Homo sapiens: one gene and its partners. The protein of the gene in region 1 purifies or fractionates together with the protein of each later gene. This does not show direct contact. Each region holds a gene or a part of one and is shown in the gene's direction. Other genes may lie near its edges.

Region 1 (5,476 bases):
AAAAGCCTACTTATTTTACACTTGAGGAAACTGAGGTACAGACAGAAGAGAAAGAGTTGAGATTCAATCCCAGGTTCTTTCCCTACTACTACTTGTAATAATAAAAATGACAACAACATTTGTTCTAAATGACGAATTCTCTTACTTAATCTTTAGAACAACACTAAGATGTTGTTACCCTCCATCTTTACAGAGGAAAAAGCTGACAGGTTATGCACTGAACTAAAGTTGATGCAGTAATTGGTGGGGTAGAAATTTGAAATGCCTCTCATGACTTTTTTCCTCTTAGTGAGTTAAGTAACCACCTGATTAGAGTGGTGGGACTTAGAGGAAGCAACTGGAGATCCTGAAAGACTCCAAGCAGTAGCACTGAATTGAAGATAATTAAGTATAAGTGCCAAAAGAAAAGGCCAGAGATACTGTGGTAGCAGATTTTTAGTGTTATAATTTTTTGTTTTAGGTGCTGTTACACTACCAAACTGTCAGTGAACCCGCCGTTATTAAACGATTGATTAGTGTCTTAAACAAAAGCACGGGTGAAGTCACAAAGAAAAAGCCTAAGTGAGTGTTTTAATACAGAAATGATAAACAAGCAATTTAAGCCAATTTTTTAAAGATTAACTCATTTGTGTAGTATTTCTCTTTGTGGTAAGTGAAACCCATTTTTACTTGTTCCAGAAATTATTTTTTCAAGGGCTAGATTAAAACAAACATAAAAACAAGCAAGTATTTAAGCTCTTGTTTAGATATGGGTACTAGATATAATTTCTGTTATGTGTGGTGGTGGAGGATGTGAATTATAAATAAATGTAAATATAAACTTATATATGTATGTACATTTCAAGCCATAGATACTGATTATGTGAAAATAAGGGCATTTAAAAAAATATGTCTAGACACCGGTTCCAAATTTCTACTGCGTGTTTAACTTTCTTGTCACCTCCTTAATAAGATCATTCCCTATGCTAAGCTAAGAAGAAAATAATCTATACACTCTGTAGTGCCTGCTCTTTTCCCATCTGGAAAGTTTGTTTTTTTTTTTTTTTGCTCAAAGTCCACCTGGAGCCTTAAGTTGAGGTGATCAGCATCCTGTTGGGCCTGCTGATTAGCATTAATGTCCAGGCTTAGGTGTGACACTTCCCCTTTGGCTAGGACGAGATTGGGATTTTTTAAGTACTTCCTCAGAAACTAAGTACGTAAATAAAAACAAAATACAGGACTAGAGATGAATGTTACAAAATAGATTTCTTGGCCAGGCACAGTGGCTCATGCCTGTAATCCTAGCACTTTGAGAGGCCAAGGCGGGCAGATCACCTGAGGTCTGGAGTTTGAGACCAGCTTGGCCAACATGGCGAAACCCCGTCTCTACTAAAAATACAAAAATTAGCCGGGTGTGGTGGCTCACACCTGTAATCCCAGCTACTCAGGAGGCTGAGGCAGGAGAATCTCTTGAACCCGGTGGGCGGAGGTTGCAGTGAGCGGTGATCGCACCACTGTACTCCAGCCTGGGTGACAGAGTGAAACTCCATCTCAAAAAAAAGAAAAAAAAAAAAAGATTTCTTACCCAAATCCAAGTTAAGGCTAATTGCAGTTTGGCTTGGCTGCTTTAGCTTTGGGGTTTTCCTTCCAACTTCTTTTCCAATAACATCCCAAATCCCCTTTTTTCTGTCCTTGGTGTTCCTCATCTTTTACACCTGCAGAAGAGGCCAAATGTGGTTAGTGGGTTAATAGGCTGACTGCAAGTAGAAGAGAAAATCTCACATTGCTCTAAACCCTTGCCTGTTTCTCTGTTAGGAGGAAGGGCTACTTTACCTCTCTCCTAAAGGTAGATCTTTATATTTAACCTGAGTCTTTAGCTTGTGGCATGAGTGTTTGCTATAATGTTCTGAGAAACACGATATAACTATATGACTAACATTTCTTGAGGACCACTATTTTTAGGCTGTATTGTGAATGCTTTCACATAATGTATATTCTTAGCAATCCTGTGAAGCATCTAGCAAGTGACACAAAGCTCAAGTGGTAGAGGCAGGATTCTAACCTAGTCAGTTGGTTTACATAAATTATATTCTTTTGTTCAGGAGCCAGGTTGTTTGACCTAGACAACTGATACAGAATTTTCAGTCTGAAATTGGCTCATCATATATAATCCTGAGTCTTCCCCTCCATGCTCCTGCTACAAAATCCTAGCTCAATGATGGTAGAGTTTAACATATTCTCGTGTTTGTGTTCCCTGTCATCTTATTTGTAGCTTTATCCTTTTATTTTGCACAACCGTTTGGCCTTTCCCTTTCATTCCTGTTCAGGCACGTTGTAGGCTCTTGATTGCTTTATGCAGAATGGAATTTAATGTTCTAGAAACTAAATTAGGAACAAGCCATTTATGTATTAGATGCTCTCCTTCCTAAGGAATGAACTTAAGCCTGAAATTGTCCAAAACCAATATTTGGAATTTTTGGTGTATTTTTTTAGAACCTTCTTTTAGTCGTCTGCCCCTGAACTTATCTTTCAAAAGGAGAGTTTATGATTTCTGTCCACTATACTTCTAGAGTACATAAAAATTAAATTAGAAAACAATTCCAAAATGTCCCTTTTTAGGTTCTGCCTCTCTCACTAAGTCTGAGCAGGGCCTAGCCTAGAGATTTTTGTTCACTTATTTTTATGAAATCATTTACAGTCTGGTCCATGCCCTGTCTTCCTTCATATTTTACAAGTATCATATTGTGGAAAAGCTACTTATGTGATTTTTGTCCTGAACTCCTGCTAAGGAACTATTATTCCTGTGTGGGGAAAGAGAGAGATTGCTTGATTGATTGAGGGGAATCTTAGCAACAACAGATTGATTGTCCTCTTCACAGATAACTTCCTAATACACATTCCATAAATTACAGTTTTACTAGGAAAGACATAGGGCATTATATTCCTCTTTGCAAATACTTTTTTATAGAAATAAGCCTTAGTATAACTTTCTTTATTAGATAATTGAACTCACTTTCTTGAGGGAATGAAAGAAAAAGCATTTATTTCATGATGAGGGGCCTTAAGCATTTTAGGCTATAGTGGTCCCGTAAGGGATAGAGTTATATTTGGAAGATTGGTAAAAATGAACTACCTAATGTTTCTTAAATCTAGAATTACTCCTCATTTCTTTCAACTAAAGCAGAAAGTCCAAAGACATATATTTTCATTCAAAAAATATTTTTCTTGTTTTTGAAAGACTCAGTTGATATGTTGGTTAAATGTGAAATATTTGTTTTTCAAGTTGTTATTATTACATTTATTCACCTCTATCATATATTCATTTGTTCTTTTTTTTTCTTAATAGGTTTTTGACTAAAGGCCAGAATGCATTGGTAGAGCTACAGACACAAAGACCAATAGCTCTTGAGCTATATAAAGACTTTAAAGAGCTGGGGAGGTTCATGCTACGTTACGGTGGTTCTACAATAGCTGCTGGTGTTGTCACTGAGGTATTTTATTTTAAAGTGACTCATTATATATCCATAGTTATGATGCCTTTTCTTTTTTACCTTTTAGGAATGAAAAGAAAGCATTGAGGGAATGAAAGAAAAAGCATTGATTAGGAGAAGCCTTACTCATTTTAGGTTGTAGTGGTCCTTTAAGGGATAGGGTTATATTTGGAAGATTGGTAAAATCTTCAGTGAGATTTTATGCCTTAAAGGAAACACAGTTATGCTACTAGAACAAGAAATTAGAATTTATATTAAATTCTAATTGCTGGAGAAAACAGCCAGAAATGAACCAGAAAATTTCAATGATTTAATTTCTTCTACACTATCATAATTAATATGAATCTTATGAATATTGTATTTTAAAGGGTACTTCATTACTCCACATGATTGTTTTCTGCCTAAAACTAGTTTATTTAATTGGATATAACATAAACTTTAAGTTGCATCAAAAGTGAGTTACACATATCATGAAAAATCTTTCTTTTAAGTTGCTAAAGCACCAAGAAACTCTATATACATAATTTAAGTAAAATACATATGGAAGGCGGTGTGGGGTGGAGGTGAAGAAAACAGCTTTCAGAGTTACACTGCCCATTTGTGTTCTTGCTCCACCAGTTTTTAGCGGCATAAATGCATTTCTCCTTCAATTTACCTCCTTCAGTGTAAAAATAGGATAATAGAATCTACCTCCTAGAGTTGTGTTGAAATGAAATGATAACGTGCAAAGCACTCAGCACATAAAAAGCATCCAATATTGGTAGCTGATATCGTTGCCATCAATATCACATTTAATCTATCAAGGCATTCTTTCTAAAAGAGCATTCTAAAAATAAGATAGAGTCATTTGTGGAGAATAATGGAGAGATTATAGTAAATTGCAGAAATGGCATGACTAGGAAAGGAAGAAAGTTGCAGGACAAAGAAAAAGATTTTCTCTTGATATAATAATTCTTTCACCATAATTTTCCCTTTGTTGTTCTTATAATGTGATTGATTAAATTACAGCAAATGTCTTTTTTTTTTTTGTTTTAACAGATAAAAGAATGATGGGTCAGAATTTCTACCACGTTTCTGGATACAGTGAAATAGCTAACCTCTGTTTCAAGAATGCAGTTATTAAGTCAAAGGAACAATGTGCAATTGATATGTTTTTAGATGAGAGAGAAAAATTAAAGCTAAAATTAGCTGCAAAGAAGTATTAATAATCACCTCTGCAAAAATTCTAAGTTGCCAACTGGCAAAGAAAGTCTAATGTTAAAAACAACTTTGCCTTTGAAACGTTAATAAATGGATTTACTTTGCTAAGATTTATGGCAAGTGTCAAAAATAGTATCTGAAGATACTGAATCATCATGAAATGAACTCTACTTCTGGCCAAAGCACAATGTATTTGCAGTTTTCTCTTTTGATTCAATTATACTGCACATGTTTTAAGGAAAAGTAACTTAATTGGGTTTTTCAGGCAGTTGATATTTGACCTAAGCTTTTTTTTTTTTTTTTTTTCCAGTTAATGCTAAGAAAAGATTTGGGGAAGGTTATAATAAAAGTATTTTGTGGTGACCATAAGAATGTCCCTCCCCAAACAAGTAAACTTGTGAAAGTTTAATTTGGAATTAGTGGAAGCTGTTCCTTTGAAAGCCAAGATATTATTTAAGTTGTAAAGCCAGCTAATAAAATGCCTTAGTTTGAGCATAATACAAACTGTGTTTTGTTCTTTAGACATTTATGAGATTCTCTGCCACTAACAGTAAATATGATTTAGGGGTTTTGTGGGATCTTTTTCACCTAAGAGTTTCCTAGCTCTGTCACATGAATTCTTTTTTATCCTAATGGCAGATCCAATTTCATCTCATTCATTTTTTTAACCATAACTTGCTTTTCCCATTCTCACTTTTAGAATTATACCTATGATGGCCCTTTCTTTATCTTGCTTACCTTATAGATTATAAGTCCCCTGTGAGTAAGTAAGAGTCATGTTTTTCTTTAAAGTTTCAACAACAAAC
Region 2 (4,728 bases), on another chromosome or scaffold:
CACATCTGTTCCTGATCTACAGCTAGAAAATGCTGCAAAGAAGAGAGAGCGAGCAACAAGCGACCCAAGGACCACAGAACAGAAACAAGAGAAGAAACGACTCAAAATTTCCAAGAAGCCAAAGGACCCAGAGCCACCAGAAAAAGAGTTTACGCCTTACGACTACAGCCAGTCAGACTTCAAGGCTTTTGCTGGTGAGGAAGTAATGGGGCCCCATACAGGGACATCTGTGCGCGTCAGAGGGGAGGAAGCCATAAAGAGACCACAATATAGGGGCCAAGTGAGTCCTGCACAAGGCATGGTGCTAGCCAGGAATTGTTGGAGTAGTCCAGAGAGGCCGTGGCAATGTGGACAGTCGCCTGCAGCCTCATTACCACCTCCTCCATGGGAGCTCAACTCATGGTGGCCTCCATGGTGGGTTAGCAAGATCACCTGTCACTTCCACTGTGACCAGGGCGCCATCCTTCCTCACTATAACTTGTGCCCATAAACCCTCTCTCTCTCTCTCACACACACACACACACAGAATTTTGTTTGTTGAAAAATCTCAAAGCCTATGACATGAACCCCTATGGCTGCTTGGGCTGTGAGAGTCCGTCTGCTTTGAAGGGGCTACAGATGGCATTCTCGACTCTAGCAGCCTTCGGAGCAACATGCTCCTTTGGAAAAGAGAAAGCAGAGGCCAGTCCACACAATGGCCCTTTATACAGGAGTGTCGCCTCAGAGCCCGAGTTCCTTATGGCATCACCCAGCACAGAGATCAGAATGGATTTCCTTATGTGCGGGGGCCACTGCTGTAGCCACCTGCCCCTAAGGTCCTGGGACTAGAGCTGAGAGAAATGGGCCTGGTTTTCAGACTGCCCACAGGGACCAGGATCGCTATGTATTCATTTATGTGAGCCATGAGCCCTAGCCCCTCATCGTGACAGGGGTGCTCTCACAGCCAAGGCTTCCCTGAGTGTCATGGTCCCGGCCTCGCTGTGAGCCTGTGATGTGTGGTAACTCATTGACCTGACCGCAGGTCTCTCTCATCTCTTACCTTTCAGGAAACAGCAAATCCAAAGTTTCTTCTCAGTTTGATCCAAATAAACAGACCCCGTCTGGCAAGGTAAGAACTGCTCCTGGAGGATTTTAGCACGCTGGTGGCGCCTGTTTCTGACCTCCTCCTCTGCTGAGAAGACAGGCCCATCCAGGAGTCCATTCCTTTGCATATCTTTTTCCTCACCTCATTTCTTCCCAAGGGCAGACAGTACTGATCAGCTACCCCAGCAACTCATAAAACGAGGCTGTAAAAGCTGGCATGTGGCTTTAAAGGGTATTATTCTGTGTTTGCTACCATGGGAACTATAGCTGCAGGCCAAAAGCACCCCCTTTGGGGCCAGCACAAGCCTGCATTCACCCCTCGTGGGTGTTGGTGCTGGTGCCAGGGAAACAGCGTGGCTGTAGCTTCCACAGGCGCGGGGGCAGGGCTGCTTTGGGGTGCTCCTGTTCCTCTTGCAGCGCATCCTGGCGGCCTTGCCTTCAGAGACACAGAAACATCCTCTCTCAGGGGATCTAAAGTCACTCCTGTGCTGCTAGAATCTTTGGCCACCTGAGCTCAGGTGTGTTTTTCTGTGTATCTTGTGGTCAAGGTGCCCACCCAGCTTAAACGGTTTCTTTTCTTTTCAGAAATGCATTGCAGCCAAAAAAATTAAACAGTCGGTGGGAAACAAAAGCATGTCCTTTCCAACTGGAAAGTCAGACAGGTATGTGGTGGACGGCGGTGTGGCCCAGGGAGCCCAGTGAGAAAGCACCTGCCCTGCGTGGTGTGGTCCGTGGGGAGTAGCTGGGGAGCGAGTGTCCAGGGGTCTTCAACCAGGATGACTCAGAGAACCTCCCACAGCCAGGTCCCTCACGCCACTCGGAAAACAAGGGCGGGAGGTGATTTGCTCTGTGCCATACATCACAGAGCCAGGCACTGCACCCCAGGACTCAGATTCCCCTTGTTCCTGGCTCTCTAGTTACCGTGTGTCCTGGGGTCACCTCAGGGAAAATAGGTGTAAATAGTTGTGAAATTTTCCTGGACCAGCCTATTAGGAATGAGGAAAAAGTAAGCACATGTGGGTTATCCTTGTTGTTGAAGAGTGGTTTGGCTTGGTTTGGTTTTGTTTTGTGAGAGTCTCATTCTGTCACCCAGGCTGGAGTGCAGTGGCACAATCTCAGCTCACTGCAACCTCCACCTCCTGGGTTCAAGCAAGTCTCTCACCTCAGCCTCCCGAGTAGCTGGGATTACAGGTGCCTGCCATCATGCCCGGCTAATGTTTTTTTTTTTTTTCTTCTTTGAGATGGAGTCTCGGTCTGTCGCCCAGGCTGGAGTGCAGTGGCACGATCTCTGCTCACTGCAAGCTGCGCCTCCCGGGTTCACGCCATTCTCCTGCCTCAGCCTCTCGAGTAGCTGGGACCACAGGCGCCCGCCATGATGCCCGGCTAATTTTTTGTATTTTTTAGTAGAGACGGGGTTTCACCATGTTAGCCAGGATGGTCTCGATCTCCTGACCTTGTGATCCGCCCGCCTCGGCCTCCCACAGTGCTGGGGTTACAGGCGTGAGCCACCGCGCCCGGCCTGTTTTTGTATTTTTAGTAGAGATGGGGTTTTGCCATGTTGGCCAGGCTGGTCTCAAACTCCTGGCCTCAATTGATCCTCCCGCCTTGGCCTCCCAGAGTACTGGGATTACAGGTGTGAGCCACTGCACCCAGCCAAATGTTTTTGTTAAAAACATAAAATCCTAATAATTAAGCCGACCCTGAGGTCAGGGGACTTGCCCGAGGGCAGGAAAAACAGGTCTGCCTTCTCAAGATGCTGCTCAGCTCAGCCAACTCTGGTGGGCCGCCGAGTTCTCTGGGGCCCCTGAGCAAACCATTCTTCCTCTGTTCTGCATGATTAAGATTTGCACCATTTTGTAAACCATCTGAGAACATCCAACCAGCCCGGAAGAAATAACTGTTGTTTTTGTACTCTCTGCAGAGGCTTCAGGTACAACTGGCCACAGAGATAGTCCTGGAAGACACGTGGCGCCTGTGGACCGGAAGCACCAAATGCTGGTGCTGCTTTTGTACATACATATTTTTAAACCATTAAAATTCTTCCTGAAGAAAGCTGATTCCTGACTTTTATTTTGTTGCCGCCACAGCTCTGGCAGGTTGCCATCCTGTTCAGGCAACCATCTTCAGCTGTCTGTGGGCAGGTGAGTGTGCTCCGGGGGTTATGGTGACTTCTAGAAAAATCCAGAGCCGGCCGGGTGCGGTGGCTCACGCCTGCAATCCCAGCACTTTGGGAGGCTGAGGCAGGCGGATCACGAGGTCAGGAGATCGAGACCATGCTGGCCAACACGGTGAAAGCCTTTCTCTACTAAAAATACAAAAAATTAGCCGGGCATGGTGGTGGACGCCTGTAATCCCAGCTACTCAGGAGGCTGAGGCAGGAGAATCGCTTGAACCTAGGAGGCGGAGGTTGCAGTGAGCCGAGATCACGCCACCTCATTTGAGCCTGGGCAGTAGAGCAAGACTCTGTCTCAAAAAAAAAGGCAAATGCAAAGAGAAAATTTTAATCATTTGTAGTCCTGTCACACAAAGATGCTTTTTTCCTTTTTTTGAGACAGGGTCTCACTCTGTTGCCCATTCTGGAGTGCAGTAGTGTGATCCTAGCTCACTGCAGCCTTGACCTCCCAGGCACATGCCACCACACCTGGGTAATTTTTCTTATGTTTTATAGAGATGGGGTCTTGCTGTGTTGCCCAGGCTGGTCTTGAACTCCTGGCCTCAAGCAATCCTCCTGTCTTGTCCTGCCAGTGTTGGGATTTCAGGCATGAGCCACCACACCCAGCTGAGATTAACATTTTGCTGTATTTCCTTATAAGCTTTCGCTATGTGTATATAGATATATTTTTAAAATATATCTTGGGTTCAGGTTTCTATCATTTGTCACCTTGAAAGTTTGTGTTATGACACTTTTCTCAATCTAAAATTTATTTTCGCCAACCCCCATTGTTAAACGCTTAGGTTTTCATTTTTGGTACTATTCTTAATAATGCAGCACTCACTAAACTTTTATATAAATTTGTGACCCAGTCTCTGATAATTTCTTTAGAACTTCATTTTATTTTAATCCTGAGATGGGCTAATAAATCAGGAAAGCACAAAATGCCATTACTTTGGTTTTTACAAATACTTAACCTAGAAACCTTTTTTCTTTGAAATTCATCCCACAAAGTATTGAGATTGCCAACTGTATATGATAACCTTTGGGGGGTACCAAGCCAAATCACACATCACTGCCGTCAGAGAGCTCCCACTCTTGAACAGCAGAGAACAGCCCTGTCCTAAGATAGGCTGGAGTTTGTTTTAGCTAGGACTAGACTGGTTGAAAATGACAGAAAAGCCAAACTATAGTGACTTTTAACAAGAGAGATGATTTTCCTCCTCTTTTGTAAACATAGTTGGCCCAGAGCTAGTGTGATGCTCATGATCATCAGACACAGGCTCCTATCTTGTTTTACCATCCTCAGCTCAAACACAAGGCTGCCGCCTCATGGTGCAGGGTGACTGCCCTTGCTCCAGCCATTACATTCTCATTCCAGTCTGCTGGAAGGAGGAAAGAACAGCACCCAATCTCTTTGAATAGGATACTGCCCATTTCAACTTCCCATTGGTCAGAACTTAGTCACAAGACCACAGCAAGGGGTACTAGGA
Region 3 (3,550 bases), on another chromosome or scaffold:
ACGAATGACATAGGGTCCTGAATTGAAAAACTAATTCCCTCAAAATAGATCCTGAACATGACCTGTGCTCCTTCCACTGTTCTTTAGGCACTTCTCTTGATCTAGAAGTTCTTTTTGGCATCTACTCTAAATCTTTCACGTTAAATAGCTCCAGCCCATTTCCTGTTTTGAAGAAGAGGAAACTATGAAGATTCCTGTACATCATTCAGATCCTACTTGAAGGCTGTTTGGTGGTGGTGGTGGTGGTTGGTTGATCTTCAGCCTTCCCCTGGTTGAGTATTCCCAGCTCGCTTCAACTTTCCCCATAGAAACTTTAACCGTCAAGTTCCTGTATGCTCATTGTTCTCTCTGTGTATGCAAGCCACCACCAAGGCCCTTTCCGTTTTCCTGGTGGCTTCTTAGTTTCCTTTTCTGATTCCCAGGTCACTCTTTGGTTGTGGAATCAGAAGAGTATACGTAGTCAGGTTTAGATACCCCAGGTTTACACCCTTAACCATCCACATGGGGAAAGAAAATCATCTTTCTTAAGGTAGTGGCAACCTGTTCAAGGAGTGGGGTGATCATTCCCAAAGTGCCAGATCTCCAGCTGCAGAGTAGACATGGTCTTGGGGCTTTGTCCCCGTAAAGGGCCCCTGACGCATCTGATCTCAGCTTGGTTTCCCCACTTCGGTTTCTTCTTGCAGAATAAGATCCAGCAAATTGAGAACCTGGCTTGCATCCCCTCCTTGCGGTATGTGGTGCCAGGGCTCAGGCAGGGGAAGAGGGGTTGGGGGAACCTAGCCATATCCCAAAGAACTGGTTCAGATTTCTCCAAGCCTGGGTCCTTGTCAGTCAAGGACCAGCAAGCCTAGATCTACTCCCTCACCCCAGAAGGCCATGTGTCCCCACTGGTCATCAGCTGCCTAGCCCAGGGGCCCCGGTGTCAGGTGCCCTCCTCTTTTCTTCCAGCTGTTCCATGATTCAGCTCTGCCTCTGTACCCCTTCCTTCCCCTACAGCTTCCTGTCTCTGGCAGGAAACCAAATCAGGCAGGTGGAAAACCTCCTCGACCTCCCATGCCTCCAGTTTCTGGACCTTTCTGAGAACCTGATAGAAACATTGAAGCTGGGTAGGAACCCACTCGCCCTGGCTCACCAAACACATCCCCTGTGGGGCCTGCCCTCCCCTCTGCACCCATCTGCCCATGCTTCTATTAGCCATGCCCCTGCAGGTCCACATTTCATCCTCAGGGAGTTCAAGGGGTTGTGCCTAGAGGTACTGGCTTTGGACTAGAAAGTGGGTATGAGAACCCCATTCCCATCGCTTCATGGTCTTTTGGCTAAGATCAAGTGAGAACCCCATTTCCTCTCTCTTTGCTGTGTGCAGATGAGTTCCCCCAGAGCCTTCTCATCCTCAACCTGTCTGGAAACAGCTGCACCAACCAGGATGGCTACCGGTAAGGAGTGGAGGGTGGGAAGAAAGGTCATGGCTGAGCTCTACCTGCTAACTCAGCCCAGACCCCTCTCAGCCTGCAAACCTGGGGTCCTGTCCATGACACCTTCTCCCCCACCTCCTACCTAGCTCATGAGCCACCACCCCTCCGGGTGTGAGTGCTGTGGTGCGTGTCTTTGCATCCTCCACGCCAGGGTGCCCTCCTGGGTAACCTCTGCTCCTTCTGCTCTGCAGCGAGCTGGTGACAGAAGCCCTGCCACTTCTCCTGGACCTGGACGGGCAGCCTGTGGTGGAGCGCTGGATTTCGGATGAGGAGGATGAAGCCTCAAGCGATGAGGAGTTCCCAGAGCTGAGTGGCCCATTCTGCTCAGAACGAGGTGACCCTGCTTTCCAAGGTTTTCAGCCTCCCCAGAGCCCACCTCTGCCCTGTGGGACATGAGGGAAGCTAAGGTGGCAGTGGCGTCCGGGGAGGGGAGCCCCAAGTTCAGATCAACATCTGGGCCAGAGCCAGGTGTCAGTCCTGGGCCCCAGCCTCAGGCTCCTTCCCACAAGGGACAAGGGGCCAGCCAGAGACTTCCCTGAGCCCAGGGACCCTCCTGCTGAGCCCAGGGCTCCACCCACCCTGTACCCTCCACCCCCGGCCCCTCCCAGGCTTCCTCAAGGAGCTGGAGCAGGAGCTGAGCAGGCACAGGGAGCACCGGCAACAGACGGCCCTGACAGAGCACCTGCTGAGGATGGAGATGCAGCCCACCCTCACCGACCTGCCCCTGCTACCTGGGGTGCCCATGGCTGGGGACAGCAGCCCTTCTGCCACTCCTGCGCAAGGGGAGGAGACAGTCCCTGAGGCCGTCTCCTCACCCCAGGCCTCCTCTCCCACCAAGAAACCATGCAGTCTGATTCCCAGGGGCCACCAAAGCTCTTTCTGGGGAAGGAAGGGGGCACGAGCAGCCACAGCCCCCAAGGCCTCTGTGGCTGAGGCCCCCAGCACAACCAAAACTACGGCCAAGAGAAGCAAGAAATGATTCTCTGTCAACCTTTCTCTACTAGTGGAGAGGAGTGGGGCCTGCCCCTCTTCTCAGACCTCTGACCTGTGACAGAAGCCCATCCCCAGTAAAGTGTCTCTAGGCCCTGAGTATGCTTTTCATGTCACTTGGGGTATCTCAGGGGAAGAAACCAGTGAAAGCTCCAGGAAACAAAATACAGAGCTCAGTGAGCCACCTGATTCTAAAGAGCGAGTCTGGAATCTTTCGGGAGCTACCCACAGGGCAGGCATGCCTCAGGCCCCCGCTGGCTTCCTGGCTCCCACTTGGGCAGGAAGCGGGCACCACCTCATGGAAGAGGCATGCCATCTCACTGCCACCCCTAGCGAGTGCCCTTCCCCGGTCCAAGCCAAGGACCAAGGAGCTGTGGTCCTAGTCATCCCCAACAGCAGCCAGCTCCTGTCCCCTCCCTGTCCTCCTGCCCAGTCCCCATCACTCACCCACTCATAGGAATGAGTACACAACCACAGGCCCCGCAGCCAGCCCACAGCTGCCTTTGGGCCTCACTTGGCTCTCCCACCCCCACTGGTCCTGGGATAAAGTTCACTGAAGAGAAAATAAAGCACATTTATTAAGGCAAAGGCCAAGCTGGCCGCTCAGAACATGGCCAAGGAGCGTGAAGGGATTGCTCCACTTTACCACCACTCAGGGCACCCAGGCCCCAGGGGTCCTGGGTCCACCCCAGGCCAGCAGAAGCTATGAAGCTTACGCATAAGCCTGGCTCTCCCTCTTCACGAAGGCCTGGAAGAGGCTGCCCAGCTCCCAGAGGGGTGGGGCCCACTCGCCGGCCAGCAGCCCCTGTGTGGCCTCGAGGCCTTCCTGCTCCAGATCCTGCTGTTTCTGCTGGAGCTGCTGCCCCCGATCCTGCCCCAAGGGAAAGCTGAGATGAGTCTGTCCGGGACAGGCTTCCCGCCAGGTGAAGGGGGGACTGTGTACCACCTCACACAAGCAGGAGAAAGGAGATACCCCCCGACATTCCCCAAAGGCAGTTGCTGGCTTTGAAGGGAGGAACTCCTCTCCCCAGCTCTGAAATCTCTTCCACTCCCTAGTTCCTTCATATTTCCAGAGTCCCACTGGGAGT
Region 4 (5,476 bases), on another chromosome or scaffold:
ATTTTTGTTTAAAAAAATTGCCCAGTCTCTGAACATGGCTTTAAGAAATGTGTCTAATAATATATACATATACCCACTGTTATTTTAGTGATTTTTTTCTGAATATTGAAATGGACCCATTTGCAGGAAAGCTTGATTTGAGCTGTGAAGTTTGTTTTCAAAGCCTATACTGGCAGAGGCTCATGTTTACTTACCATATTATTTTCTTTATAGGGAGACCAAATTTTGAGGAAGGTGGACCAACATCAGTAGGGAGAAAGCATGAATTTATACGCTCAGAAAGTGAAAATTGGCGCATCTTTAGAGAGGAACAAAATGGAGAAGATGAAGATGGAGGTTGGCGACTAGCTGGATCAAGGAGGGATGGAGAGAGGTGGCGACCTCACAGTCCTGGTAAGAATTCTGTTGAGTAAAGGCACACAGGGACTGAAATAAGGGAAAGTTTGATGGAAATAGGGATTAAATGAAAAAGATAAACTGGCTTAAAAAATGTGGGGGTGGATTCATATTATTTATGCTGTCACAGTTTTATTACTAGAAAAAATTGCAACATAAAAATTTCCTACATCTATTCAGTTGATTGAAATCACTTTTCTATTTTTCTGGGGCAAATAGTGTAGTTTAATGGGAAGCACCTGCGCTCAACTGCAGAAATGAGGGTTTCATTCAGTTTTGTCTACCTCTAAATCTCTGAATCTTTTTTAGCATTCTTTAAGATTTATAAATGTGTAAAAATTACACACTTGAAATATGTGCTTCCCTCCCCAACAATGAGTGTTTTTCCTAACAAGAAAGGGTTTATTCTTTCATTTTTTCCCTTTTGAAAATGTGATTTAACCTTATTTGAAGAATAAGCTTTAAACCTAGGTCAGAAACATAATCACAAGTTCATTCTTATGTCCTTCTAACTTTAGAAGAAGGAGAGACAATAGTAGTGATTAGTGGCTTTTAAAGTTCTTCTGTTTGTCTCTTAAAAATGCTCAAACTGTTCTTCTTGGACATTAGATATGCTAGTAATTGAAGACACTAGTGCTTTGTGTTAAAGTTCATCCTGTACCACAGTGCTGATTCCATGCCTCATGATAATCAGATGCAACTGTAGTTCCAATTGTGGGGTCATGCAAAACTGAAGCACACAGAGTATATGTGGAATGCCCTATGAATTTCATGTGTATGACAGTATTTTATCAACCATGTGCCAGAGGGGCTTACCTTTAATACAGGAAATTATGATAAGTAAACTGTTTTCACTTTTAAAAATCAAGTTATTAGCAAAACCACTAGCTTAGATCTGGGTAGACATTATAACAGGCATTCAGAGTATTTTAAGGAAGTGGTAGGTAGATAGAAACATACTGAAGTTAATGTTTGGGTAGAGTTAGGATGGTTTTATACCAACTCTTCATGGCTGCCTCTTGGGTGGGTTTTCTGTCATTAGTGGGCATTGTTTACATCACAAGGTCTAGACAATTTTCATTAGTCTGTGACCTGGGCCAGATGTTATAGTTCTCTAAAAGGCATCACTGCATTTTATGCTGAGCTTGTCCGTAGGCAGAGGGTTTGTAGACTATGTTCCCAACAAGCATTCAGTGAAGAATGGATAGGATCTGGGCTGAGAGAGAAAAGAAATTCCAGCTGGTCAAAAACAAACAAGGTGAATGTTTTGGAAGATGAACTGTGTTTTTTGAGCCCAAATGTCTGATGTTGATTCTATTAAAGGGAGTTTAACAAAGTACCTCCCACCCAACAACTTAGAATTTGGTTATATATTATCTTCTTCTCATCTTTTCTGAATCTTTCTTTCCCCCTAATATTTGACTTTCATATCATTTTTGTCATCAACTTGTGTATCTTCCAGAACTTTTAATCCATATACATATATATTTTTTCAGTCACACCTGTGGCTGAAATCCATATATTTTTAAAAGACAGTTTGGGGGATATAAAGATCCCCCAAATATAAAGTTTGGGTCTGAAAAAACAGTGTAAATGCATTTTAAAAAAGAATACGATTCACTTTTTAAACCCAGTATATTCAAAGTATAGCCTGATTATAGCAGTTTTCATATGTTAACTCTTAACGTTTGTTAGTTTATGGTTAATCTTTTATTAAGATTTGAGTAAAACTTTAAATTATTTTAACTGATTTTATGAAAATAGTATCCAACTTTAGTTTAGATGTAGGGTCTGTAAATCAGCAGTCAGCCTTAATAAGTACCTTGCATGTCTTACTTGCTATGTTTAGTTTCGTGAGTAAAATTTTATGAACTACTGATAAGATAACATTATGGGATATAAAATAGGGCTTCCGGCTGGATGTGCGTGGGGGTGGGAACATTAAGGACAGGGAGGCATCCAGTCTGGGAGCTGAACCTAGGAAAGTCAGTAAGAGGAGAAACATGAGCCAGGTACCTAGAAGGATAGATTCCTGTCATGATGTACATTTAGACTGTTAGAAATGAAAGCAGTACAGAGGGCTCTGGAATTCATTTGATCATGAAGACTCTTTTCACATAATGGCTCTAGGTTTCCACGTAAGCAGTCTGAGTATAAAATTCCTTAGTTCTCATAGGAAGTAGTAAATAGTGTTTTGTTGTTTTTATATGAAGGGATGGGAGTGTGGGACTAAGATTTCTTTTTTGTGAGTGGCTTATCAGATGCTACCTGTATTTGGCATTTTAACGTTTTGCCCTTTGTTTTCCAATTTGATTTTTAGATTGCTGGTTTTTGCAAAGTTTGTCTCAATAGTGAGAACATTTAACTCTGGCCACATTTCTTTTTCTTATCCCCCACAGAGAAAGCAGTCAAGGATGGAAAATTCTAATAGGTTAAAGCCTGCTTTTCTTTTTAAGACTCTTTTAGACTCAGGTCTGTCAGATTTTAGCAAGAGTTTCCCTTTCTTTTTTTTAGAAAAATATCTTAAGTAGGATCTCTTATTATTAGGCAATCTTTTCTTCTGTTGGGAAATGTAGATTTGGGAATGTCCGTAGGGGTATTATATGGATAGGGAGAATTAAGAGATGAGAAAGAAGGGAGAGGAGTAAGTATGTTATTGTGGAACAAGCAGCAGAGGGTGCAGAATTGGATTTTAGTTCTACTTTGCCATGTGCGAGTTACTTCTGCTGGCAAAGTTTTAGTTTCTTCTTAAACTATAAAATTAGGATAGTGAACTTCATAAAATCTCTGTGACAACTTTCAGCACTGTAATTTTGTGAATTTTTGGGGGAGGATCAGAATTACAAGTGGGAACCTGGCATTAATAAATAGTCATGATGAGTTTGATATAAGTCAACACAGGGAGCTGATTTTATCCACAAACAATGATATTTTCATGGGAAGAAAGAAAATGCTTTAAGATTGGGCAAAAGGAAGGTGTAAACTTCAGTATGGAAGGATGTCTAGTGCATTAAGTCTGGATGAGGAGTTGGCGGCTAATCAGTATTTTAATCAAGTACCTAGGACTTACTGAAAGTGCGTACTTGGAATACAGTGTCCTTTAAATGTACTGCATTTTAGATTTATCTTTTAAAGCTTTAGAGTATGTTGCCTGGCTCAGTACTTAAGTACTGTTGTCATCTCGTAATGGTACATATACTCTGAACTCTGAACTTCATTTAGTTGCCTAATGTTCTCTTTACTAGGTCAGTCCATTTGAGTTTGCGGTCACTTGTAGTTTTCTCCTTTATTTTCTATTCCTGATTTTCTTATTCAAATACTGTCATAAAACTTTTCTAAGGTTTGTGTCCTCCTTCTCATCTCAGATGGCCCTCGTTCTGCAGGCTGGCGGGAACACATGGAACGACGTCGGAGGTTTGAGTTTGATTTTCGAGATAGAGATGATGAACGGGGTTACCGAAGGGTTCGCTCTGGCAGTGGGAGCATAGATGATGACAGGGATAGCTTGCCCGAATGGTGCTTAGAGGATGCTGAAGAAGAAATGGGTACATTTGACTCATCTGGAGCATTCCTTTCTCTAAAAGTAAGAAACGTGTTTTAAATGTCATGACCAGCATTAACCTTATACCAAAGCCAAATCTGCTGTTGATCTTTGGTTTTATTCTCTTTCTACAGAAAGTACAGAAAGAGCCTATTCCAGAAGAGCAGGAGATGGACTTCCGGCCTGTGGACGAAGGGGAGGAGTGCTCTGACTCTGAGGGTAGCCATAATGAAGAGGCCAAAGAACCCGATAAGACAAATAAGAAAGAAGGAGAGAAAACAGATAGAGTAGGAGTTGGTAAGGCCTCTTCTTGCCCTTTGCCTTTTTTTTCCTCCATCAAACCAAAACTTTCGTAAGTTCAACTAAGATTACTTCGTGTTCCAGAAGCTAGTGAGGAAACTCCCCAGACCTCATCATCATCTGCTAGACCAGGTACTCCTTCAGACCATCAGTCTCAGGAAGCATCACAGTTTGAGAGGAAAGATGAACCAAAAACTGAGCAAACGGAAAAAGCTGAAGAGGAGACTCGGATGGAAAATAGTCTACCAGCCAAAGTGCCCAGCAGAGGGGATGGTATGTATTTGTGGGAATAGACAAGCTAAAATAGGATTCTGCTGAGGCCAGTGATCACTGATAAGTTAGGCTTCTGCTTATGCCTCCTAGAACTGCTTTTAGTGGGTGAATTATCGGAATAGATTATTTTACCAGTAAACCCAGTCAAACAGTGCTTCTCACGTATGTGTCCATCTCAGAATTACCAAAACAGAGTTCGAATCTGCAAGGGTGGAGCTCTGGAATCTCATGTCCTAAGGTGTTATGACATAGCCACCCTGTCATTACTGGTGAACTGGGTGTCATAGCCTTTGCATTAGTTTGATTCCCGTATTAGACAGTTACCTTCCTTTCATGTGTTGACTAATTATGTGCCCAGCTTAAATTACCAGATGACACACCAAAATGCCATTTTTCTAAAAGAGGACAAGTAGAGAACATATGTGAATCTGTGGCAGAATAAGCTTAAAACATATCTCTTTCAGTTGTTAGTGTATTGGTTTAAGTTGCTCATACACTTTATTAGGCAATATTAATGCTCATTTCCATGTTTCTTCTTGTACGTATTTAAAAATGTCATTGTAATGCCTGACGTTGAAGGGTTACTTGATTCATTTACCATAAAAATTGATACCCTTTAACATGGCATATGAGACACTGCACAATCTGGCATCTGCTTCCCTTTGTGCAGTTTCATTGCCAGCCTCTTTACTTCCCTCACGTTCTACTTACCAGCCTCAAAGCCTTTTAGGTCCTGAACTGTCTCCTGTTTTCTAGGATTCGTACCTTAGCACATCCTTTTCTCTGTTCTTGAAACTCTCTTCCACCCAAAGCCCCCAAACTAGGGTAGGTGTCTTCTTCGTTTCTTAAACAACCAGGCTTATTTCTAACATAGCATTATAATATCATAAAGATGTTTATTACCTTGTTTTCCCAGTAGACTAATATTTTGAGAGCTCAAACCCAGGAATTTTTCAATTTTTTAAA

Evidence for each region.
Region 2: the proteins of HBS1L (region 1) and EXOSC10 purify together in Homo sapiens (affinity purification with mass spectrometry, with the first as the bait; one large-scale study listed by BioGRID). This does not show direct contact.
Region 3: the proteins of HBS1L (region 1) and LRRC46 purify together in Homo sapiens (co-immunoprecipitation; one large-scale study listed by IntAct). This does not show direct contact.
Region 4: the proteins of HBS1L (region 1) and GIGYF2 purify together in Homo sapiens (affinity purification with mass spectrometry, with the first as the bait; one large-scale study listed by BioGRID). This does not show direct contact.

What each region holds. Positions count from the first base shown.
Region 1 is NC_000006.12:134,964,323-134,969,798, reverse strand, and holds part of HBS1L (HBS1-like protein), read left to right. Parts: intron 1-460; coding exon 461-561; intron 562-3,325; coding exon 3,326-3,470; exon of another isoform or gene 3,471-3,473; intron 3,474-4,508; coding exon 4,509-4,520; 3' UTR 4,521-5,476. UniProt on the Homo sapiens protein: GTPase component of the Pelota-HBS1L complex, a complex that recognizes stalled ribosomes and triggers the No-Go Decay (NGD) pathway.
Region 2 is NC_000001.11:11,065,025-11,069,752, reverse strand, and holds the end of EXOSC10 (exosome complex component 10), read left to right. Parts: intron 1-22; coding exon 23-194; intron 195-1,046; coding exon 1,047-1,108; intron 1,109-1,668; coding exon 1,669-1,745; intron 1,746-3,004; coding exon 3,005-3,035; 3' UTR 3,036-3,135; downstream 3,136-4,728. UniProt on the Homo sapiens protein: Catalytic component of the RNA exosome complex which has 3'->5' exoribonuclease activity and participates in a multitude of cellular RNA processing and degradation events.
Region 3 is NC_000017.11:47,834,670-47,838,219, forward strand, and holds the end of LRRC46 (leucine-rich repeat-containing protein 46), read left to right. Parts: intron 1-683; coding exon 684-730; intron 731-996; coding exon 997-1,106; intron 1,107-1,363; coding exon 1,364-1,433; intron 1,434-1,663; coding exon 1,664-1,806; intron 1,807-2,080; coding exon 2,081-2,451; 3' UTR 2,452-3,050; downstream 3,051-3,550. Other genes in the region: SCRN2 (secernin-2), read right to left, coding at 3,175-3,333. UniProt on the Homo sapiens protein: Required for normal spermatogenesis and male fertility. Plays an important role in sperm flagellum biogenesis.
Region 4 is NC_000002.12:232,786,937-232,792,412, forward strand, and holds part of GIGYF2 (GRB10-interacting GYF protein 2), read left to right. Parts: intron 1-213; coding exon 214-393; intron 394-3,761; coding exon 3,762-3,979; intron 3,980-4,071; coding exon 4,072-4,234; intron 4,235-4,321; coding exon 4,322-4,510; intron 4,511-5,476. UniProt on the Homo sapiens protein: Key component of the 4EHP-GYF2 complex, a multiprotein complex that acts as a repressor of translation initiation. In the 4EHP-GYF2 complex, acts as a factor that bridges EIF4E2 to ZFP36/TTP, linking translation repression with mRNA decay.